Regions from separate parts of the Homo sapiens genome. Here region 1 is linked to region 2. The links come from fine-mapping of genetic effects on gene expression. Tissue or cell type: whole blood. Region 2 holds a variant in brackets; the other region holds the start of a gene. All regions are shown on one strand. Distances are between the middles of the regions.

What was found.
Region 1: DNAJA1 starts here. The variant in region 2 is fine-mapped to the expression of DNAJA1 in whole blood (INTERVAL, PIP above 0.99).

The regions. Positions count from the first base shown.
Region 1 is chr9:33,018,412-33,031,209 of GRCh38, forward strand. DNAJA1 (DnaJ heat shock protein family (Hsp40) member A1) reads left to right here and starts at 6,862. Exons shown (of 9, transcript NM_001539.4): 1 at 6,862-6,972; 2 at 8,064-8,205; 3 at 8,402-8,579; 4 at 11,474-11,578; 5 at 12,029-12,256. The coding sequence starts at 8,074. It also overlaps a transcript of APTX not described here and the pseudogene LAGE3P1. RefSeq lists enhancers at 5,702-6,297, 6,620-6,914, 6,892-7,486, 7,443-7,512 and silencers at 6,773-6,922, 7,203-7,342.
Region 2 is chr9:32,976,296-32,989,093 of GRCh38, forward strand. It overlaps APTX (aprataxin), which reads right to left. Exons shown (of 8, transcript NM_001195248.2): 3 at 11,788-11,834; 4 at 11,249-11,551; 5 at 9,676-9,735; 6 at 8,336-8,562. It also overlaps the pseudogene TCEA1P4. Among named protein-coding and RNA genes, the nearest start is that of APTX, 19 kb to the right of the region's middle. The variant A/G (reference allele first, on the strand shown) is at 8,098.

The DNA of each region.
Region 1 (12,798 bases), 42 kb after region 2:
ACAAAAATTAGCCAGACGTGGTGGCAGGTACCTGTAATCCCAGCTACTCGGGAGGCTGAGGCAAGAGAATCGCTTGAACCCAGGAGGCGGAGGTTGCAGTGAGCCGAGATTGTGCCATTGCACTCCAGCCTGGGGGACAAGAGCAAGACTTCGTCTCAGAAAAAAAAAAAAAAAAAAGACTGTACTTCCCCAGGTACTGTGGCTTATGCAGTAATCCCAGCACTTTGGCAGGCCGAGGCAGGTGGATCACGAGGTCAGGAGTTCAAGACCAGCCTGGCCAACATAGTGAAACCCCATCTCTACTAAAAATACAAAAAATTAGCCAGGCGTGGTGGCAGGCACCTGTAATCCCAGCTACTGGGGAGGCTGAGGCAGGAGAATTGCTGGAACCTGGGAGGCGGAGGTTGCAGTGACCCAACATCACGCCATTGCGCTCCAGCCCAGGCAACAGTGCGAGACTCCATCTCAAAAAGAAAGATATGTACTCCTCAAAACTGTCAAGGTCCTTAAAAATAAGTAAAGTCTGAGAAACTGTCACAGTCAAGATGAGACTAAAGAGATATGATAACTCAAAGTAATGTGGTGTCCTTGGTGGGATCCTGGAACAGAAAAGGGAAAAATTAAAGAAACCCAAATAAAGAACGAACTTTAGTTAATAATAATGTATCAACGTTGATTCATTAGTTGTGGGAACTGTACCATTTTAATGTAAATTTTAACAATAGGTTAAGACTGAGTGCGGAATAACAGGAACTCTACTATCCTGACAACTTTTCCGCAAATCTAAAACTATTCTTAAATATAAAGTTCAGTTTAAAAAAATGAAGGGTGGTGAGTGGGGGTAGGAATGAAGGAGAGAGTTCATAAAAAAGACTGAAATTGTACGTAGTCAGAAGAGAAGAACCACAACAAATTGGTGCTACTCAAAAAATAAATAAATAAATAAAAGTCTGGCCCCAGTTAATTAAAAACTAAATATTCTAAGAAATTTAAATTAATTTATACAAACATAAAAAATAGCATTTCAGTTAGGATTTACTTTCCACTTTGTGCCGATAAAAATTTTTCTTTTTTCTTTTTAATAGTAGCTCAGTTTTATTTTCTGTGGTAACAAACATTTAAGAACCAGAGAAAACAAGGGACCCCTGAGCACACAAAGGCAGTACAGGCCGACCATGAGGCCCTCCCGGGAAAGTAGCAACTGTGGGAATTCCCTGCCCTAGGGAGGATGGATGCACTGCCTAGGAGGAGACGCAAGGTTAGACCTCGCCCCATTTTCCCAGGCCAGGCTTAGCGGGAAACTGGGGGCCCAAAGTGCTGCAGGGTCCGCACCACCAGAGAAAGATGGTCGAGAAAGTTGATAAGGGAAATTCGGAGCAGGCAACAGTCTTCAGCTTTCCAGCGGACGGCCAGGATCCTGCCGCTCACTGTGAGATCCTTCCCAACCACCCTTTGGTGGGGTTCGGCATCTGGAGCCAGGGACCCATGGGCAATTTCCACCTCTAAGGGGGTCGGGAAAGGCACGCTGAGGGTGAATATGTGCGGCCGCATTCCTGGCCCTTGGCCACAGACGCTGCGTTTCTGCTAGGACCTGACACGTGCGGTGGGGGAGCTCCGCTGGCCGGAGCTGCCGGGGTGTCCGCGCCCCCGGGGCAGCTGTGATCACCCTAGCCATCCCCGCAGTTGGCGCCTCCGCCTGCGTCTGCATCCACGTCCCACATAACCGCCCTGGCTCCGACTCCTTTTCTTTGTAAACTAAAGAAAAAAGTATAGCTGTAGTTGTACTCATTCAAACCTGGACTCACCTTTTCCTTCACCCAATTTTGCTCCTACCCTGGCTTCTTCCTCCTTCTGGGCTCCCTACCCCAGGAAGGGGATCTCCAACCATCCTGTTGCTAAAGCCAGAAAGCTGGAAGTCATTCCTCCTCCCTACCTCTGCATCAAGTCATCATGACTCTACCTGAAGACTTTACATGTTTTTATATTTGTGTTTATTTTTCTCCCTCTCCATTTCTTCTATTTAGGCCTCATCATTTCTGATCTCATCGCTCACCATAAAAACCTGCTAAGAATCCAACCTTCGCATTAGCACCCAAGTGATTATTGTGAAATTTAAATGTAATCAAATCAGCTCTAAAACAAGGGTTACTGTGAGGATAACAATATGGCAACGTTTGTAGAGTGTTTAGCGCAGTGCCTGGCAGGTCCTCACAAAAGAAAGAACAGATGAGGAAAGAGAAAAGAAACAAAAAGTCAGCTGTCACAGGTTATATCACCCCATCCCTAAAATCCTCCAGTGTCTCTCAAGAGCCTTCAAAACAAAATTCAAACTTTTTAGCATAATGCCCAAGCCCTTATTACTTTGCTCCTGCCAGGCCTCCAGCCATCTCCAGCTACCTCTATGAACACTTACGGCCATGTGGTTATTGAGTTATTGGCCAGGCGTGGTGGCTCACGCCTGTAATCCCAGCACTTTGGGAGGCCGAGGCGGGCAGATCACCTGAGGTTGGGAGTTCAAGACAGCCTGGCCAACATGGAGAAACCCTGTCTCTACTAAAAAATACAAAATTAGCCAGGCGTGGTGGAACATGCCTGTAATCCCAGCTACTTGGGAAGCTGAGGCAGGAGAATCGCTTGAACCTGGGAGGCGGAGGCTGCAGTGAGCCGAGATGGCTCCATTGCACTCCAGCCTGGGCAAAAAGAGAGAAACTCTGTCTCAAAAAAAAAAAAAAAGAAAGTATGAAATATCCCACTGAAATAAAATATAATGGTAAGAAAAGAGGCCATCCATGACAGCAACAACAAAAAATGCCTAGTAACACATTTAAGAAGAAATGATGAAGACCTAGTTTAAAAAATGAAGAAAATAAATATACAGTTATATGTTCATGAGTAGGAAGATTCGACATTTTAAATGTGTTAATTCTCTCCAAACTGATATATAAAATCACTGTAATCACAATAAAACTCACAATGGGATTTGGGGGGAATCTGCCAGAAATATTCCTAAGTTCCTCTGGAAGAATAAACATATTAAAAAAAATACAAGGAATATTCTAAAAAGCAAGAACAATGAAGGGAAGTAGTACCATGTATTTCAGTGGAAATTAAGTATACATTAAAAGTGGTGGCCAGGTGTGGTGGCTCACGCCTATAATACCAGCACTTTGGGACACCAAGGCAGGACAACTGCTTGAGCCCAGGAGTTCAAGAACAGCCTGGGCAACATAGGAAGACCCTATCTCTGCACATACAAAAAAAAGGTTGGGGGGCGGATTTCACATTAGTCAGGAAAAATAAGATTAGTGTTAGACAAACTAGTTTGCCATTTGGAGAAAAATAAAGATCAGTTACTTACAAATAATCCTCAGTCCTTACACCAAAATAACTTTCAGATGGAATAAAAAATTTAAGTTTAAAATGGAACAATGATTCCAGATGCAGTGGCAGGTGTCTGTAGTCCCAAGTACTGAAGAGGCTGAGGCAGGAGAATCACTTGAGCCTAGGAGTTCGAGGCCAGCCTGGGCAACACATCAAGGCTGTTAATTTAAAAAAAAAAAAAAAAAAGGGAAACAATGAAAGTACTAGACCTAACCTGTAAACCTGGGACAACAGATTTATATTTATAATGCTGGACTGATGAAGGGGAAGGTGGAGAGAAGAAAAAGGCCAAAAAGGAAGAGTCACAATTTATCTACATAAAAATTAAAATCTTTATATGGCCGAAAAATATATATATAGATACTAAGTAAAAAGCGAAGAATATACTAAAGAAAACAATTGTAACACATGACAGACTAATATCTACCCCTAAAAGGGCTATTATTAAAATAGTGGAATTACACCACAGAAAAATGGTAAAATAATATGAACAGTTGACAGGAGAGTCAGTAAACATTTAAAACATGGTTAAACTTACTAACAAAGAAACTCGAAACAATAAGATATCACTTTTTATCTCCAAGCTTAGCAAAGATTTAACAACAAAAGGCCCTCATATTGGCAAGGCCCACTCACACACTGCTGGAAGCAGTTACAAACCAGTATGGAAACTTATTTATTACAATTTTAAATCTACATTCATGTTGACTCAGCAATTTCAATTCTAGCTGTCCATCCAACAGAAATACTTGCATGAGTACTCAAAGCTGTATTTGCTAATTTCTCTGCAGCAGTTTGTAAAACACTGGAAATTGCTGAAATATTCATCAGTAGGGGAATAAATTACGGTGCCTACATACTACGCCATTAAAAATAACAAGGCAGATTAGTTATTTATCCTGGCATAGTAAGATGACAAAGTGAAAAGGGCAAGCTGTAAACAGCTTGTATAATGATCCCATTTCTGTACAAACGAAGACCACATACAAAGTTATTGCCAGTTTTTTTATTTTATTTTACGTAAGAATGCTTCTTAAAAGTGTTAACTTTTTTGTTAGTTTCGTTTTTAGACAGGGTATTGCTCTGTCGTCCAGGCTGAGGTTCAGTGGTGCAATCACCACTCACTGCAGCCTTGACCTCCCAGGTCCATCCTCCTGCCTCAGCCTCCCAAGTAGCTGGGAGTACAGGCCCACACCACCACACTAACTCTAATTTTTGTAGAAACGAGGTCTTATTATGTTGCTCAGGCTGGTCTCAAACTCCGGGACTCAAGGGATCCGCCTGCCTTGGCCTCCCAAAGTGCTGGGATTACAGGCTTGAGCCACCATGCACCCCCTACTCTTCCTTTATTAGCATTTAACACTCAACTGTTTGTTTCTGGTTCCCTATGTTGTGAGCTCCTTGAAGGCAGGGACCACGACTTATGTGATTTTTTTTTTTTTCTGAGACTCGACAGAGTCTTGCTCTGTCAACCAGGCTGGAGTATAGCGGCACCATCTCTGCTCACTGCAACCTCCGCCTCCCAGGTTCAAGCGATTCTCCTGCCACAGCCTCCTGAGAAGGTGGGACTACAGGCACGTGCCACCATACCTGGCTAATTGTTTCTATTTTTAGTAGAGAAGGGTTTCACCAAGTTGGCCAGGCTGGTCTAGAACTCCGGATCTCAGGTGATCCGCCACCTTGGCCTCCCAAAGTGCTGGGATTACAGGTGTGAGGCACGGCGCCCGGCCTGACTTACGTGATTTTTGTATTACAAAGCCCTAGTACACTGCCTGGTAATATTAGACGTTTATTAACGGTTGGTTTAAACAAAAAACTTTATACCAGAGGTGATACTTGAGAAGGCAACACCTAAGATTGAAAAAAATCAGGTGTCTGTCAGCCAATGCAAAAGCATACAAAGGTGAAAAGGCGTATATGGGAAACTGCGGATAGTTCTGTGACTGGAATGCACAGTTAAAATTAATGAAAGAGAAAAGGCTGAAGAGGCAGCATGAGGATGCTTCCAAGGATAAAGTTCAAAATTCTTAGCGTAGCATATATACCAACAGACAAAGGCATGCCCTAACTAGCTTTGAAGCCTCACCTCCGGCTATTCTAGCTCCCTTAGCTATGGCTATATCCAATTAGTTGCAATTTCCTAAAAACATCATATTCTTCCACACCTTAGTATAGCCTTCCCCTGTGCTTTGTCCACTGCTCTCCTCCCATTTTCAAAACTCAGCTCAATTGCCACTTTCCCAAAGAAATTCTCTCTGATCTATCAGGTTAATATAGGAGGCTCTCCCCTACTGACTTCTACCTCATGGTTTCTCTGGCAGTCTGTTGACTTGTTTGGCTTCTCACTAAAGTCTAACTGGGGCTTTTCAACTCTGCATCTCCAGTTCTGTTTTTGTTTTAAATCGAGACGGGGTTTCACCATGTTGCTTGGGCTGGTATCAAACTTCTGAGCTCACGCAATCAGCCCACGCTGGCGTCCCAAAGTGCTGGGATTACACACGTGAGCCACCGAGCGTGGCAAACTCCATCTTTCTTGGTGCTAGATACTGACATACCTGCTGTGTCCCTGGATAAAGAAGCGGACCCCAATTCCCATTAAGCCCCCGTGGTACCATTTTCAAGTCCGAGGTCTTACGTTGCAGATTGTACATCCAGGTTCCCTGACCCGTAGGATTTAAAAGTGAGGTCAAATAATTAAACAAATTGTTTTAGTCAGACACTCTTGCGGCTACTCTGTAGCCAAACTGGGTGAAAACCTGACCAGAGGAGTCCACGGCCCTCTGTACATCAAAGACGGTCCAAACGTCTCACTGTTTAGCTCAGTCCCAGACACACTGAGCTCAATCTGCACGAATCAGCGAGGTCCAGGGCAGATAACATGTGTCTAGGGGCCTGGACTTGCACAAAAAGCCTTAACAACTTCACAATTTGATTAATTATGCCGCCTTGGACCACGCGTGAAAAACAGCAAGACCCAAGGCCTATGCTATTGGTCTGGGGACTAGACCCACCTGGCTCAAGCATTTTTTGCTCGCCACGTTCCCAAAAAGAGAAGAGGCGCCCGTAAGAGGGGGGGGGGGGGGGGCAAGACTGTTCCAAGAGCTTTCCCGTTCACACACAGCTCCCGCTGGGTCACTGTACTCGAGCCCTTCCCGCCCTCGCGGGCCCAGGCGGCCACCCCACAGGTTTGGGAACCCTAGGACTTGCAGTGCTCCTGGGCCATGCCCCACCAGCCGGAGACTTCCGCACTCTCAGGCTCGCTGAGTGGAGAAAAGGGCTCCAGAAGATTCCACGAGCGCCGGGAAGCCGCGCTAGCACCAACACCCACAAGGCCTTTCGGCGCAGCTCCTCCCGACCCGTGCGCCCCCGCGCCGTTGCCCAGGTAACGGCGGGGCGGTGGCAGCGGCCGAGAAGGGCGGGACTTCCGGCGGGTGACGCGCCCGGGTTCGGCTACAAAAGAGGACGGCTGCGGCGCGCCGGGCGGAACTTTCCAGAACGCTCGGTGAGAGGCGGAGGAGCGGTAACTACCCCGGCTGCGCACAGCTCGGCGCTCCTTCCCGCTCCCTCACACACCGGCCTCAGCCCGCACCGGTGAGTTTGAGCCCTCGCGCTGCCCCTAGTCCCCTGGCTGGCGCCATTGGCGCCGGGAAACCGATGGAGCCGCGGTCGGGAGGCAGTTGGCCGCGTGGGTAGGACCGCTGTCAGTTCCTGGGCCCACGATTTCCCTTTTGGAGGGCTGGTGTGGTGCCCTGGCAACCCATCCCCGGCACGCACAGTGAATGGGCCCGAGACCTTTCCTAGACCTCCCTCCTTCCCCAGCCTGGGATCTCCAAGGAGCTACTGTCTTCGGCTGCCCCTCCGTGCGCGCCCCCGCGGCCCCCCTCCCCGTCCGTGCTCGCTCGGGGTGGGGGGGGGGAGTGGGGTTGGCGACCCTGCGCACGCGCACAGGGAGGCAGGGGCGAGGGGCTGCGGGGGGAGCCGGGCGGAGACTGCGGCTTTTGGTTTCGCTTTCTCTGTTTCCCCTCCCTTTGTTTGTTGAGGGCTGGGCTTTCCCCACCGCCACTTGGGTCCAGGGTGGGAGGGAGAAAGGAAGGAAATCGGTCAGCGCCAAGTGCAAGGGGAAACCTGGCAGGTAAACTCTGCCAGCCTGAGGGGCGAGAGGGATTCGGCTGGAGAAGCTGTAAGCCGTGGGCGGTGGAGGGCTTGCTGTGTGGAGCCAGTAACCTGTTCTATAAACCACTCCCCCCCACCACTGTGTGCCCAGACGTCTTTTTCTGGAGAGTATATGGAGTTTATCAGATTTGCCAAAGACAGTGATAGTGTAATGACCGGTAGACTGAACATATCAGTGCTTCTTTTGGTTACAACTGTCACCGCCTCTAGGGCAAACGGGAAGAATCCAGATAATAGTTGTGTTATATTAGTATGGAAGCTTTGGTGTAGGAAAATTGGAACCAGCTGCTAGAAGGCGGCTCTCAGATTATTTCCCGATAATGATTATTTGTTTTGTCTGTTCGAGTTTATAGCTGAATTATCGCAGGAATTGTTACCTTTTTGGTGAAATTTAGGGAAGGTGGTGTTCTTATAATCGGATTTTGCAAAGAGATTGCTCGGCCTTAGCTCTCTTTTTTATTAAAAGCTACCAGTTGAAAGCCGGTTAAAGTTGCATTTTCTTATTTCAGGCAGTAGAAGATGGTGAAAGAAACAACTTACTACGATGTTTTGGGGGTCAAACCCAATGCTACTCAGGAAGAATTGAAAAAGGCTTATAGGAAACTGGCTTTGAAGTACCATCCTGATAAGAACCCAAATGAAGGAGAGAAGGTGAATAGTATCTACTCTTAAACGTATCTGAATAGTTCTTTGCCAGACGTATAGTATTTCTATTATGGCCTGAAATCGAGTATCTAATATAGTAACTATGATCACTTCTCGGCCTTTTTAGCTAAGATCAAGTGTAATGTAGCTAGGTAACACTTGTTTTTTAAAAAATGAAATTCACTCCTCTTTTCTCAAACAGTTTAAACAGATTTCTCAAGCTTACGAAGTTCTCTCTGATGCAAAGAAAAGGGAATTATATGACAAAGGAGGAGAACAGGCAATTAAAGAGGGTGGAGCAGGTGGCGGTTTTGGCTCCCCCATGGACATCTTTGATATGTTTTTTGGAGGAGGAGGAAGGATGCAGAGAGAAAGGAGAGGTAAGAAGAATCTAGTCTTTGTGCAGCTAACTAAAGTTAGCTGTTGGTCAGAGCAGATCTTTGAGAAATCACCCATTTTAAATGCTTGTTTACATGTTGGTATAATGTTGCAAACTGACCACAAATTGCCTCTGATTTATGGTGTCGTGTTTTTTTGTTGTGGTTTTTTTTTTTTTTTTCTTGAGACGGAGTTTCCCTCTTATTGCCCAGGCTGGAGAGCCATGGCGTGGTCTCAGCTCACAGCAACCTCCACCTCCCGGGTTCAAGCGATTCTCCTGCCTCAGCCTCCCAAGTAGCTGGGATTACAGGCATGTGCCACCAAACCCGGCTAATTTTGTATTTTTAGTAGAGATGGGGTTTCACCATGTTGGTCACGCTGGTCTTGAACTGCAAACCTCAGGTGGTGATCCACCTGCCTTGGCCTCCCAGAGTGCTGGGATTACAGGTGTGAGCCACCATGCCCAGCCAGTGGTGTCGCTTTTTTTAAAATGAGATTTAAGGGGCCTAAAAAATAGCCAACAGAGTGGTAGCAAATGACTGCTTCCAAAAATCTTAGATATTATCAAACAAATTATGAGAACAGGCCGCGTGCTGTGGCTCATTCTGTAATCCCAGCACTTTGGGAGGCCGAGGTGGGTGGATCACTGAGGTCAGGGTTCGAGACCAGCCTGGCCAAGATGGTGAAACCCCATCTCTACAAAACTACAGAATTAGCTGGGCGTGGTGGTGGGCATCTGCAATCCCAGCTCCTCTGGAGGCTGAGGCAGGAGAATCGCTTGAACCCTGGAGGCAGAGGTTGCAGCGAACGGAGGTCACGCCACTGCACTCCAGCCTGGGCAACAAGAGTGAATCTCTGTCACAAAAAACCCAAAAAAATCCAAAAATTAGCCAGGCATGGTGGTGCGTGCCTGTAATCCCAGTTACTCAGGAGGGCTGAAGCAGGAGAGTCGCTTGAACCCGGGAGGTGGAGGTTGCAGTGAGCTGAGATCGCCCAATTACACTCCAGCCTGAGCAACACAGCGAGACTCTTGTCTCAAAAAAAAAAAAAAAAAAAAAAAAAGACAAAGTATATAGCAATATAATTTTCCAAGCCCTTTTTACAGATCTTATTTGGTGTTCCCTCACTCCCCAAAGGAATTTGATGGTAGGTACAGTGGCCTTTTTCAAATGGGAGTAAGTTAAAGTTCAGAAACCTAAAACTTCTTCAAGCTCATATAGCAAGCCAACAGAGCCAGGGCTGAAAACTGGTTCGTTGCCTGCCATCTATCTATTCTTGTTTCAGCTTTATTGTGTCAAAATTATGTATTTAATATGTTTATCAGGAAAGTGGCCTATGGGCTCTAGAAATACTGCTTATAGGAGTAAAATGTTCAAGAGAAATCAGTCTCACTTTATTTCCAGTATAGTGTATACAAATAAGGGCTGATGAGCAGAACCAGTTTTAGAATGAATGGCCAAGCCATTAAATTTCACTTTGAGCTTCTTAAGGTTCAGAAAGATTTGGGAAATTGTTTATTCAGTTTTTCTTTAAAGATCTTCAAGGAAAGGATTATGTTTTTATTAAGATACTTAAACTCCTTAAAAAGAAAGTCCACAATCCAAATGACTTGCTTAGTAAATTGTTAGAATTTGTCCACAAAAAAGTAGTGGTGGTTTTTCACTTACCTTACAAAGAACCTGCAGGTTAACATTGGCAAGCTCTTTTATGTGGCTTATGATCATATTGAGAGGTTATTTCTGGGGAAATGCGCTTCATCAAGCTCTAGAAGCTTTATTTTTCCTTCCTTATACTCAACACTGTTCAAAATAAGGGCAGCTAGATTTTAGCGTGCCAAAACTAAAGGTGGAACTATAAGCAGAAGGACATAATTAATGGTATTTCATGCTTGATTAGAAAGTTAAAATGTTCATTAGGCATATTGTACAGAAACGAGTTTGAGAACTTTTTTCAGTTGGTGGAAAGGCAATAATATTGTTGTGAATAAGTCCTTGTGGAAGGACCACTAGTTAGGAACTTACTAACTTACTAGCAGGTGACTTCATACTTCTAACCTCAGTGTCCTTATGAGATCTTGACCTTCCATTTCCTATTCTGATTTAAGTGAAGTAAGGCACTCCTTAGTAGCCACTGGCCATGTGTGGCTCCATTAATTTAAGACAAAAACAAAAATACGGTTTCTTAGTCTAAATGGCCACATTTACATGCTCAATAAGCACATGTGATTGGTGGCTGCTACGTTGGACAGAACAGATATAAAACATTTATCACTGCAGAAAGTTCTGTTGGGCAATGCTATTATAAAAGGTATGAGAAATTTGGCCTTCAAAACAACCAGTGCTGGCCCAGCAGTAAATGGGCTGTTTTCTACTAAATCAGGAAGAAGTAGAAATTGATACTCTTCTGTGGTGACTCAATAAATACATCAGCTTCCCTGGCCAATCTTGATTAATGAGAATTTACTGTGCTACAGAATTTTTGGATGAAGTAATTGGCCATGTTGCTCAATACGGTACGAAGTGAAAGCTTCAAAAAATATATTGTGACAGAAATGAATGTTTGGATTATTGTGAAATGTGCCCTTTTAAATAACATTGGTTTTTCTCAAGTGACTTTGAAGGTAATGCTTTTGCTTACCATATTTCCAAGATGGCCACGTCTGTGCCCTTAAGCAAATATTTAATCTCTGACCTGATTTTCCCTCATCTGTGATTACATCACAGTTTGAGGATCATCTGTGATAACGTGAACATTCTGTGTATATAGTAGGTAGTCAACAGATGTACCCTGTGAGGCTCATCTTTTATTATTCTTTGCCACATTCTTTATAGTGCCTTTAGCACAAATAAGATCCAGCATCTTAAACAGATTTGCAATGAGAAATATTTTGTTTTAGGTAAAAATGTTGTACATCAGCTCTCAGTAACCCTAGAAGACTTATATAATGGTGCAACAAGAAAACTGGCTCTGCAAAAGAATGTGATTTGTGACAAATGTGAAGGTACGGTGTTTTTTTGTTTTGTTTTGTTTTGTTTTTAAGCACCTTTAATATGACACCTGAAAATGGAGCTAAGACTTCTAGATAGATATGTAAAATTGATTCATGTACACTACCTAGATTTTGGGGGAGGAGAGGGCAGATATGAAGAAAACCAACTGAAAACCTCCCACCTAAAGAAATATCAGCACTTTTTTCTGTGTATATTTTAAATACAGTTGGGATCAAGCTAGTTTGGTATCTTTTTTGTAATAAGTAAAATTTATTGGAAAGTGTGTTCTAATAAGAATGAAACTCATTGGAATGATCTCATCAGTTGTACATTCAGAGGGTAGCATTCCATCAGGCTTCGAAAATATTAAAAGTATAGCATTTAGGAATTGTCTTCTTAAAACATTTACTACTGTATACACTACTAATTCATACATTATTTAATTTTCTTTTTAAATTTAGGTAGAGGAGGTAAGAAAGGAGCAGTAGAGTGCTGTCCCAATTGCCGAGGTACTGGAATGCAAATAAGAATTCATCAGATAGGACCTGGAATGGTTCAGCAAATTCAGTCTGTGTGCATGGAGTGCCAGGGCCATGGGGAGCGGATCAGTCCTAAAGATAGATGTAAAAGCTGCAACGGAAGGAAGATAGTTCGAGAGAAGAAAATTTTAGAAGTTCATATTGACAAAGGTGAGTTCTGAGTTACTTATTCTGAAGTCTTGAATGCTGTGGCAGATTTATTATTAACATTTTATAATTGTTTAAAAATCATTCTTAATTAGGTTATATATGATCCTATCAATCAGAAATAACTCTTAGCAGCTTAGTAAATAATGTTCTTTTATCCAGACATAATTTTGCACATTGGTATATTACTAATACAGAATATATTAGGAATCTCCTCATTTAATATAACAGGATCATCTTTTGAAATCTGTGGTCCTGTAAATGATTGAATAGTGTTCCAAACTTAATTCTCTCCTGTTAAACCATAGTTCTTCCATCTTTTAAAACATTAGAATTGTACACATTCTTAATTAGGAGTTACTAGATCAAGGGATAGGCATACTTTTAAGGATTTGAAAGGGGAGTTAGGTGAAGAATTGGGTCTCATAAAAATTCATGGTTTTTTTGGAGACGGAGTTTCGCTCTTGTTTCCCAGGCTGGAGTGTGCAATGGCACGATCTCAGCTCATTGCAACCTCTGCCTCCCGGGTTCAAGCAGTTCTTCTG
Region 2 (12,798 bases):
CGCAGCAAACCAACATGGCACATGTATACCTATGTATCAAACCTGCCTGTTGTGCACATGGACCCTAGAACTTGAGTATAATAAAAAAAAATAAAAACTACTTGCTGTAGCCCATGTGTTCAGTTTGTTCAACAACCTCACTCACACATGATGAATTACATGAATAGAAAGTCACCAAATAAGACTCAAGACAAAAAAATTATCTATCAACCTCCATATGAAAAGACCACAGCTTTAATGATTTATACAATCCTTAAGCTTAATATCTGGTCAGTATAGGTTTCCAAATCAAAATCAAGTCATAAGCTGTTACAATAACTGCATTATACTAACATTTTCTTTCCAGTATTTCTTCCTATGAGGGAAAAAAATCATCAGAAGCTTTCACTCTTGAAAAGCGTCCTAAACTAAAACAGTGTTCTTCTCCAAAACGAAAATACTCTACAAACAGTAAATAAAAGCTAAGCTAATTTCAACAGTCATATTTCCAAAAGTAAAATCTATTAAGTACAATACACCTGCACAAGAAATTACAAGAAATGATTACAGTTACAGATGCAAAATAACATCTAATTATCCCAGGCTTGTGAACATAATAATTAAAATCAAATTCATATGCTAGTCCAAATATTATGTACAATTTAGATAAGCTGGTCAAGTATTATTTGAATATACACCATATTTGTTAAACCTAAAATTATATTACCTTTTCTTGTCCTTTAATATTTGTAGATACACGCCAATATGAAAAAAAATGTAATTTCCATTTATGTATTAACAGAGAATTTCTACTGCACATGTTTTAAACCGTTAAAAAATAAAAAAGTCAAGGTACATTTTCACTTAAGAGATAAAAATAAATTACCAGAATTTTAATTGATAAAAGTTTCATATCAATTTATAAAAATGACCCAAGCACGTGGCTCATACCTGTAATCCCAGCTACTCAGGAGGCTGATGCAGGTGGATCACTTGAGGTCAGGAGTTCAACATTGGCCTGAGCAACATAGTGAGACCCTCATCTCTAAAAAATTGTTTTAATCAGCCAGGCATGGTGGCACACCCATAGCCCCAGCTACTCGGGAGGCTGAGGCAAAAGGATACCTGGAGCCGAGGAGTTCAAGGCCGCAGTGAGCTATGATCTTGACACTGTACTCCAGACTGGGAGAGAGGGTGAGACTCCCATCTCTTAAAACAAAAACGAAAACAAAAAATGAATAAAAAAATTCATTTATAAAAATGGGGGGGAAAAAACCTGGGTGCAGTGGCTCACACCTGTAATCCCAGTACTTTGGGGGGCCAAGGCAGGTGGATCATTTGAGGCCAGGAGTTCAAGACCAGCCTGGCCAATATGACAAAACCCCATCTCTACTAAAAATACAAAAATTAGCTGGGCGTGGTGGCGCATGCCTGTAATCCCAGCTACTCGGACAGCTGAGGCATGAGACTAGCTTGAACCCAGGAGGCAGGGGTTTCAGGGAGCTGAGATTGCACCACTGCACTCCAGCCTGGGCAACAGAGTGAGACTCTGTCTCAAAAAAGAAAAAGAAAAAAAAAACGGAAACAGATACCATATAATTATCATATGGTCTCTGATATAAGAAGGTATTTAAAGAAGGGGCATTAGGTCAAAAACAAGGACTAACCCAAGTGTGTTGCTTTAAAAATCTAATTTGTAGGAAAACTAGTTGCTTGGCCAGTTTTAAATCTAATTACAAAATCCATCCTTTTTTGTTTTTTGAAAAGCATAACAAATTTATTTAATCCAAGTTTTATGTGACACAGGAGCCTTCCAAATGAAGATGCAAAGATACGGGGAAAACTATCCATTTTTACACTTGGGTTTGTTGAAGAATGGAAAGCCATGTAGAACCACTACTGCTTCAAAAGGGTATACGACTTAATGAGAATAGACTGAGTGGGGAAACTCAGCAAGGCCTGTCTGTCCAGATTCTTCTTAACCTCTTTGTGCAGCATTCCTTCTTCCCAGGTATGGGAATGGCAGTCTTATGACCTACCATCAAACAAGGTAGATCAGGGAATTTCTTTATAGCCAGGTCTACATAGAAAAGAAGGTTAGAGTAATATTTTGGGGTTTTTGGTTGGCTTTGAGGAAGAAGGTTCTAGTTTCTATAACCTGCCTTGAGAAAGAGGAATTATAGTTTCTATGGCTTGCTTAGGGGGAGAATGAGGGGCAAGAGACGGGAGCAGGAGAAGGTCAAGGAGAAATTTTGCTTCTGAGGCCTTTATTTGGGGTTATCATTTTCTAAGCCCCAGCAACACTATCTGTGAAATGGAAGTGAAGATACCTACTTTACAGGGTTGCTAAGATGATGAAATGAAAGAAATAAAGCTCAAGTGCAATTTCTGATAAATAATAGACAGCAGATTTTAAATGAGGTATCACCTGTCCCATAAACATTTATGGTATGTATCCTCCCACCTTCAATATCCATGGTGGGGGACAGGAGAGCAGGACAGGAAAAGGCTACAATTCTCCCTTAACTACAAGCCAGATGAGCACTGTTTCTGCTGACTCCACTTCCATGACCCACTTTCTTACAACAGTGGTTCGCAAACCCTAAAGCTCTATTGTTGATATTCACTTTTTGATCCATTTACTATGATTGGGCTTCTGTCCCATCACACTACTAAAAGCATATTTTTTTGGATATAACTTATGTTTTGCTAACTACCAAGTTGGTTCTCCTTTTTTTCTATCATTAATATATTTAATATAGGTAACTTTTTAAAACTTTTAGGTTCAGGGATCCATGTGCAGGTTTGCTATATAGGTAAATTGTATGTCACAGGAGTTTGCTATACAGATTGTTTCGCCACCCAGGTAATAAGCATAGTACCCCATAGGCAGTTTTTCAATCCTCCCCCACCTCCCTCCCGCCACTGTCAAATAGGCCCTAGTGTCTGTCATTCCCTGCTTTGTGTCCATGTGTGCTCCGTATTTAGCTCCCATTTATAAGTGAGAACATGTGGTATTTGGTTTTCTGCTCCTGTGTTAGTTCACTTAGGATAACGGCCTACAGCTCCATCCATGTTGCTGCAGAGGACATGTTCTCGTTCTTTTCTATGGCTGTGTAGTATTCCATGGTGTATATGTACCACATTTTCTTCATCCAGTCTACTACTGACGGGCATCAATCATGGTTGATCCCATGTCTTTGCTACTGTGAATAGTGCTGCAATGAACATACAAAATCTAATTTCTTAATAGTCCAGATATTTTGGTAGTTATTCCAACTCAACAGAACTTCCACTGACGTCCACATTCATTACAGACAACGAATGTTATCAGTCCATCAGCACTACATTTGCACATGTGAACAAGCCACTCTGGGTTCCACCTGCCTTGGCCACCTAATGCTCTCTGATGACTTCTTTGGTCAAGTTTTTCCATATCTCTCTGAGCCCATCACTAGCCATTTCCTCTGCCATCATTCTAGCAAATAAGACAGGAGGAATATTCTCACATGGTACATTTTCCCTTAAATTTGGATTCTTTGCTCTTTAAGATTTGATATCCTACTTCATACTCTACTTTTGCATTTCGTACCTATATTCCTTAATTTCTTGATATACAGCCTCCTCAATTTGAGATCCTAATTCTTCCTCACCAGCTCCAATAGCAGTGTAGCCATCTCCTGTTTGGAGAGCTGCAGCAAGCACCTCGCAACACTTTAACCAAAGAGAGTCAGAAGTGCTTCGTTCCTGAATAAAAGATGAAACACGAGTATCTAGAGCATTTGTCTCACCCTCTCTGCTGCTTGCACTGCCACCGGAGCTACTTTCTTCTCTCGCTTCAGAGTTATTCTGCAATGTAACTGCAGGTTCTTTTTTCTTTTCTTCAGGGTCTTTCTCGGTTGATAGTAACTTTTTCCCAGATTTCATGACAGACTGTTAAAGATGTAACTTCTTCATCTTTATGCTGCTTGCCATTAGCATTAACTGATATTCTGATTCTTCTGGGGGCTGTAATAATTCCATGGTCATGGGAATATTTTTAAGCTCCTTTGGCAAATCCAATGCTCCAGCTGTATTCTTCTGCACCATCTTGTCCATCTACTTGGCAATGGGAACCACCTTGTCCAATGTGGCTCTGGCAGGTCTTCCCCACACCCAGCCAGCTGGAGGTGAGAAGTGTGTAAAACTGAGGTGGAAAGGATGGCAAGAAACAAGCCTCAGTGGTCCTGACAGGCTGAGCCAGGCTCTTCCTCACAAACCAAGCCCACAGGGGCAACCTGATTTACATGTTTAAAAGATCACTCTGACTGTTGTGTGAAGAAAGGACGGATAGGGAGGAACATGGAGAAACCAGTTAAGGAGGCTGCTACAGCAGTCTAGGCCAGAAAATCACAGCCTACACTAGAGCTGAGCTGTAGCAGCTGAGATGTCAACAAGCAATCCTACTTTGAATGCATTTTGGAATAGAACAAACAGAACTTATTAATGGGCTGCATGTTGCTTTGGGAGAGTGTTACTTACTGAGATAAAGAAGGTTAGGTGAAAAAGCAGGTTTGGGGAAGAAAATCAGGAATTCTCTTTTGGACTTGTTAAACCAAGTAGAATGCCTTTTTGTATAACAGCTTTCACTCTTATAATCAGTAATATTTCACGTTCTCCCAATAAATAATCAAAATCAATCAACATGTGTGCAGAATCCAAAATGAAATATAAGCACTAATAAATAAGCATAGCTGTATTACAAATGAATGAGGAAACCACACTAAATGGATTGAGGAAGAAAATATATTAACTATACTATAGTAACCTAGCTTTGGAGAACAGTGTTTTGACTAGATACGATAAGGCTAAAAACAAAAAGAACTATAGGCAAGTACTGTACTCTAGTTAGTAAATGTCCTTCTCACAGGGGTATGGGTTAGGAATCCTGTAACTATTTTATGGGTACACTAGGACTGAACAAGTAAATGAATTTATTGTAACTAATGAGAGCCAGGTTTCTCACTGTTGGAGAAAGTAGTTACAAAAAAGGAAAAGGGAAACAAGAATGAAACTTAGAGTTGGAATGGTGTCAGAGATATCAGTATGAACTCATGGTTTTTCACATACAAATAAAGGTAGATAAACACAGAATTATAGGGGTGTGTATGTGTGTGTGTGTGTATGGCTTAGGATTCATACATGCATTTCTGGCTCTATGGCTGAGAGGACCTAGAAAGCAAGGACACCCTGGAATCAACCACTTCTCTCACAGAAACCTAGTGCCCAAGAAGACCTAGGGCTCTTTGGAGAAGTGGTTCATTCCAGATAAGCCTGGAACATCTTGTGGGGCCAGAAAATAAATTGCCCAAAAGATGTTGAAGGCGTATCTAAGTGACACAAGAGCTGACCTAAAGGAGCTTTCAATAACCAAAGCTGAACAATTTGAGCAACAAAATAATTATAGTATTGAATTATAACCTATAGAATAAACATCCATGAGTCCATACCATTAAATGATTGAATAAAGAACTAATGAGAAAGACAGAACAGCGCTTTCACACAGAATAATTTCAACTAATAAGTTAGGTGAAGGAAGTATAAAGTCACCATAGAGTAAATACCAATACAATAACTATTACAGGCAAGATGCACCAATAGATGCTAAAATCATTGGGTGCGAGTTTGAGGAGAAATAGTAGTATAGTCTCAAAATATCTAACCCAAAATATTCATGAATTAAAAAAAAAAAAACAGTAATTTTGAAGGTGAAAACCTGGCAGACACCACCTTAACAAAATGATCAAGGTTAACATCATCAGTAATAAACCATCTCAACATCATGCCCCCCCATATGACATATTGAGAAGGACACAATCAGAAATATCACTTCAGTGATTAAAAAAATGCATAACGTCAACCTAATCATGAAAAACAAAATTAGACAAACCCAAATTAAAAGACGTCCTAAAGACAATTAGCCAGTATTCATCAAAAGTGTCAAGGTCATGAAAGCCAGGAAAGTAGGAACTGTCACAGATTGAGGGAGACTAAGAAGAGAGAACAAATAAATGAAATGTGAGATTGGATTCTGGAGTAGAAAAAGAACAATACAGGAAAAATGGGTGAAATTCAAATAAGGTCTACAGTTTAGTAAGTTATCTAAAATAAGGTCTATAGTTTAGTTATCTACAGTTAGTATTATGAAAGGTCTTTGTTCTTTTTCATACTTAATTTTTTATATTTTCTTAATTGAAAACATTACTTTTACAATAGGAAAAATAATTTTACTTGTTTATCACCTTTTCCTTTCTAATATGTTCATTTATTCAAAACTACATCATACAGAGTAATATAAAAGGGTATATAAATAGCAACTTTGCTTATTGGCTCATTTTGCCTCCCATATATACCTACCACAGCTCTTGCTGTGAGCATTCTCCTTAGCACGACAACATTCACTGTAGGAAAAAGGTATGGGCATCACGATCACTACGTGAAAAGGGCTCAGTGGCCAAGGGCTCTGTTAGTCAGGGGCTCTGCATTAGGGAAACAGGATTATGGGTGACTTTCCCTCCTAAATTTTCAAATCAGCCTTTAACAATAAAAATATATTTATATTTTTAAAGTGAGGTACAACATACATCCACCCTATGACCTAACAATTCCATCTCCAAATATTTATTCTTTTTTTTTCTTCTTCTTTTTTGAGACAGAGTCTCACTCTGTTGCCCAGGCTGGAGTACAATGGCGTGATCATAGCTTACTGTAGCCTCAACCTCCTGGGCTCAAGTGATCCTTCCAACTCAACCTCCCAAGTAGCAGGTGTGCACCACCACCCTTGGCTAATTTTTTGTATTTTTTGTAGAGACAGGTTTTGCCATGTTGCCCAGACTGGGATCCCTAAATATTTACTCAAGGGGAAAAAAATAAATAAAGTACATATGTCTATGATATACACAATAACACACATGAATCTCAAAATTATGCTGACCCAAAAAAGCCAGACCAAAAAAGAGTATGCAATGTATGATTCCATTTATACATGGTAGCTCTAGAAGAGACAAAAACTATCTATGCTGAAGGAAATAAAAGCAATGCTTGAGGGAGGATTAACTGGAAAGGGGCACAAGGGAACTTTCTGGGATGAAAGGATAGACATCTTCTGTATCTTAATCAGAATGATAGTGAAAAGATTATACACGCTTATGAAAACTGATCAAACTATGCATCTTATTATGCACTTTATTGTATGTAAGTTATGCCTCAACTTAAAAGAATCAGTACTGACTAGGGAAAAATCTGGCACAAAGATTTCATTTGGTTCAAGTGGCCAGTAACCTAAGTCATAATTATTCACCTAAATAAAATGTGAGTGTTGGTAGTTAAAAAAAAATAAGCAGAGAAAATCCTGTCACATGCTACAACATGGATAAGACTTGAAGACATTATGTAAAGTAAAATAAGTAAGTAAATAAGTAAAATAAGCCAGTCACAAAAGGACAAATATGTCCTTGTATGATTCCTCTAATATGAGGTACCTAGAGTAGTCAAATTCACAGGGAAGGAAAGTACAATGGTGGTTGCCAGGAGTGGGAGGGGGAAATGGAGAGTTATTATTTAAGGTACAGAGTTTCAATTTGGGAAGAGAAAACAGTTCTGGAGATAGATGGTAGTAATGGTTGCATAGTAATATGAATATAGTAATGCCAATGAATTGTACACTTAAAGATGACTAAAATGTAAATTTTGTTATGTATATTATATCACAGTTTTTTAAAAACAAAATAAAAACTCTAAAATCTAGACTTATCATCTTATTGCTTAAATCAAAGAAATCACGGAGATCCACCTTGCTTGTATTCTTTGAAAGAAATCAGTCATTCCTTTCTGAATCCTTCTGGGCATAAGCCACAGGAAAACAAATTCTATACTTTTCTCTCATTTTATTTTCAAATCCTGGATCTACTACGCTGTCATTACAGAAGTCTATGATGTTTGTTTCCTTCAGAGTAATGGTCCTTAATCATTCTGGGGTTATAGACGCTTTTGAAGAATCTGATAAAAGCCACTGACCACAATTCTTTATCTGAGGATAATGAAGCTGCTTCATCTAGTTCATATATTAGGCTCTCGAAG[A/G]TTTATATTTTGAGAGGAACAAAGAACCAAATATGACTGAATTATAGGCAGAAGTGGGAACTCAAAGCTTGCATGCAAGTCAGGCAGAGAGGTGGAAGCTTCAGCCCACCTGCTTTGGAAAAACTCCATCCCACTTCCCTGGGTCTCAGTGCAATATGTGCCCTCAGCAAGCCCAGGCTGAATCTATCTGCCCACCTGGACAGAACCAGGAGCCAGCAGCACTACCCACCTGGCTTACCTCATACTCGGAATGGCGTGGTAGCCCAATCGGAAGCGGAGTTTGCTGGACCCAGCAAAATCTACAATCACCTTTTCCCCCACAGTGTGCATATGCTTAAGGAGTTCAAGGTGTTCCCTGGCCACAGCCTTCAGACTGGAAATGGAGGTCCACGGTAAGACCAGCCAATGGTAACGGGCCTTTGGGTATTTATCCTTTATCACCACCACCTGCTCATCTTTGTAAACCTAGCAGAGGGATACAAGAGAAGGAAACAGACATCTACTAAGAATCTTCTGTGTGCCTGGTTGTTATATTCACTAAGTCACTTAATTCCCACAGTCTTGTGCAAATGGTTTTAATAGCCCAGTTTTGAGAGAGGAGAGCACTGAAATTCAGACAGGTTGAGTGTCTTGCACAAGTCATAGTTCCTAAGAGGGAAATCTAGGATTCCAACTCAGATGTGGTTGACTCCAGAGTCTGTTTTCAACCACCACACTACACAGAATACACAGAAGATGCACAGTACAAAATAGTTCCCAAGAATGTGATGTAAAATCTCTGTAGACATAAATTCAAAAGCATCCTTCTCCACTCCAACATGGCAGACTGTGTGACACGTACACGTGGGTTCCAGTGAGCCCTATTAGACCTGCCCCTTGTCAACAAGGAATATAATTGAAGTGGGACTCAAAGGCTCCTCAAGGATGATGCCTGTTTTTTTTTTTTTTTTTTTTTTTTTGAGATGGAGTTTCGCTCTTGTTGCCCAGGCTGGAGTACAATGGTGCAATCTCAGCTCACCGCAACCTCCACCTCCCGGATTCAAGTGATTCTCCTGCCTCAGCCTCTCGAGTAGCTGAGATTACAGGCATGCACCACCATGCCCAGCTAATTTTTTGTATTTTTAGTAGAGACAGGGTTTCTCCATGTTGGTCAGGCTGATCTCGAACTCCTGACCTCAGGTGATCCTCCCGTCTCGGCCTCCCAAAGTGCTGGGATTACAGGGATGTCTGACTGTTAATGCCAGGGCAGCACAGTACTACTGTCACAGTGTATTATCTCTGATGCTCCCCTGAAAGGAACCATACTAAGGTTAATGCAACTTCCCTTAAAGTACCCAGAAGTTTAAAAGGCACAAGGCAGAGGGGATATTCATTTGAAGAACTCAGCTTTCTCTCCAAACAATGACAGCTGCTACTTTATTGCCAATGTGAAAAGCCTCTTGTTCTCACAGAACAGCCCAATAAAATGAATCTCATTCAGAAAGACTGATATCCTTTGATTTCATTTGTAATTAAGACCTCTGTGGAGTGGTCATTTACAACATGAAATGTACTGAAATTCCAAAATTGTATTCTGACCTGCATTTTGGGGTCCTGCATAGAAATCTTCAAGCCTTGACTCCAGTGGCCCAGGGATTCCTAAAAAAAAAACAAAAAAAAAAACAAAAAAAAAAAAAAACAAGCAATGTAAATTACAAATGCCAATAATTAAATTTGGCAACAGTTAATACTGTGTGATAGCACAACTAAACTTGGAAATAAGCTTAGTTTTTGAGAATTAAACAAGATTCACTTGACTCTGCTTCACTCCATTGCCTTCCTATATTCTCTTTTTTTTTGAGACAAAGTCTCACTCTGTCTCACCCAAGCTGGAGTGCAGCGGCGTGATCACTGCAACCTCCGAAGTGATTCTCCTGCCTCAGCCTCCCAAGTAGCTGGGATTACAGGTGCCCACCACCACGCCCAGCTAACTTTTGTATTTTTTAGTAGAGACGGAGTTTCACCAGGTTGGCCATGCTGGTCTTGAACTCCTCACCTCAGGTGATCCACTGGCCTCCACCTCCCCAAGTGCTGGGATTACAGGCGTGAGCCACCACACCCGACCCTATATTCTTTCTTTTTTTTTTTGAGATGGGGTTTCGCTCTTGTTGCCCAGGCTGGAGTACAATGGCGTGATCTCGGCTCACTGCAACCTCTGCCTCCCGGGTTCAAGCGATGCTCCTGCCCAGCCTCTGGAGTTGCTGGGATTATAGGCATGCACCACCACGCCCAGCTAATTTTGTATTTTTAGTAGAGATTAGGTTTTGCCATGTTGGTCAGGCTGGTCTCGAACTCCTGACCTCAGGTGATCTGCCCATCTCGGCCTCCCAAAGTGCTGGGATTACAGGCGTGAGCCAGCACACCCAGCTGTTTTTTATTATTGTTGTTGTTTTTTGAGATGGAGTCTCGCTCTGTCGCCCAGGCTGGAGTGCAGTGGTGCAATCTCAGCTCACTGCAACCTCCGCCTTCCAGGTTCAAGCAATCCTCCCGCCTCAGCCTCCCGAGTAGCTGGGATTACAAGCATGTGTGTACCACCAGGCCCAGCTAATTTTTGTATTTTTAGTAGACATGGAGTTTCACAATGTTTGCCAGGCAGGTCTCAAACTCCTGACCCTCAAGTGATCTGCCCACCTCGGCCTCCCAAAGCGCTGAGATTACAGGCGTGAACCACTGCACCCAGCCAGCCTTCCTATATTCACAGCTGGCTGTTCTAAATGAAGGCGAGAAATGCCAGAGTATGAGTCATACCTTCTTTGCCCTCTCTCACTGCAGCTACAGCCTGACCAATTCTCCACTTTGACATCAGCATATGAATTACATGATCTATGAAAACCTTCTATAGATGCATAAACAACTGATCCACTTTAGTTGTTCAATGTTAAGTACACACTGCCATTATTGTTGTACCTTCAGGTGGCTTACCTCAGGAATTTAAGAAAAAAGCACATAAAGGAACATTCATCCAAATGATTTTCACGCCACAAACAAGTGACTCTTTCATCATGGTTAATAACCCCTCACGCATTTCTGAACTTTAAAGTGTACAAAACAATTAAGCAGTCATTATATTTCATTTCTTCTCCACATCATCTACCAATCACACTACCCTCACCTTTTTGATAGGTGCATCTTTTCCCTTCTTTAGGGGCACAGAGCATTGGCCAGAGTTGCTCCCAGGTTCCAGCCCTGTCCCAGCCTCAGCTTCCTGAGCAGCATCCCTTTCTATAGAATCACTGTTGCCTGATCTCTTTCTCTTCCTGTGTGTTTCCAGGCCAGGGTTCTTTGCCTCTTCCTCAAACTCTACAATATATGGATAAAGTTCATTCACCATGTGGAGAACCTGGCCAGGCTGCAGCTTCACCTCTTGGTCCTTCCCAATTACGACTGAGTCAATGCTGGTGGGATTGACTCCTACCTATGGAATAAACAATCAGAAAATAATTATAATAATAGCAACAGCACCTACAGTAAGATAGCCACTGCTATGTTAACCACTTACTATATGCCAAGCACCTTGCCTTATGTTCACCTATATTACTCCATCACTTCCATACATGACAGAGAAGCCTTCACTGGCTGGCACAGACACTCTAAAGTCAACAGCATAAGAAAATCATCGAGTATAAAATTCCAAGTTATAAATACACCTACCTGCTTTACCTTGACATATCCCTTGTTACACTCTGCTTTCAACTGTACTGAAAGAGATTGGAAAAAGTTAAACACAAATGCAACAAAGAACCAGGCACTTGCTCCTATCTTCCCTAAAGAAAACAAGCTTCACTACAGGCGGCAGCTGAACAGGTGGTGTTTCCTTAAAGGCCTATTAGCAATCACCTGTTATTGCAGGTGGCTGGAGCTCCAAATCCTACCAATTTCTAAAGGTTTAAATCCTTCCATAAAATGTCCAACAGCGTACATACTCCCTTAGCTATTGCCAAGATCCCTATGAGGCAGCTTCAATTAATCCCCACAAGTTTCCCTATTCCAGAACCCCTGGCCTGCTCATGATCACAGACTCTGCCGCCAGAAAAGAAGACCTGTTTCTCCCAGCCTGGGCAGCATGGCAATACCCCGTCTCTACAAAAAAATACAAAAATTAGCCAGGTGTGGTGGCACATGCCTGTAGTCCCAGCTACTTGGGAGACTGAGGTGGGAGAATCACTTGAGCCCCAGGAGGTGGAGGTTGCAGTGAGTCAAGATCGCACCACTACACTCCAGCCTGGGCAACAGAGTGAGACCCTATCTCAGGAGGAAAAAAAAAAAAAAAAAAAAAAAAAAAGATCCATTTCTCACACGAACTCTTGACCAAGGATTAAATCAGGCTTCCACTATTATTTTGGAAAAACAACAACTATTAGATGCTTTAAAAGATAAAACAGTAAAAGACACATTCCTGGAAAACAGAAACTCAGGTGGCTTTGGGTAGAAGGAGTGGAAAGAATGTTCTAGAAAGATGATTGCAGAGACAGAACAATCTGAGCATGTGTGAGAAGTGGTAACATTAAGCATTCCTGTTCTGATAAATGAACAAGGTATCTGGAGTTGAGACAGGGAGGAAAGAAGAACCACCATAGCTGCTCCCCAGAGAGGACAGGGTGCCACATACATGCCCCTTCAGTTGCTGTTGTGAGGAAGGGAACAGAGAGAGAAGCAGCCACT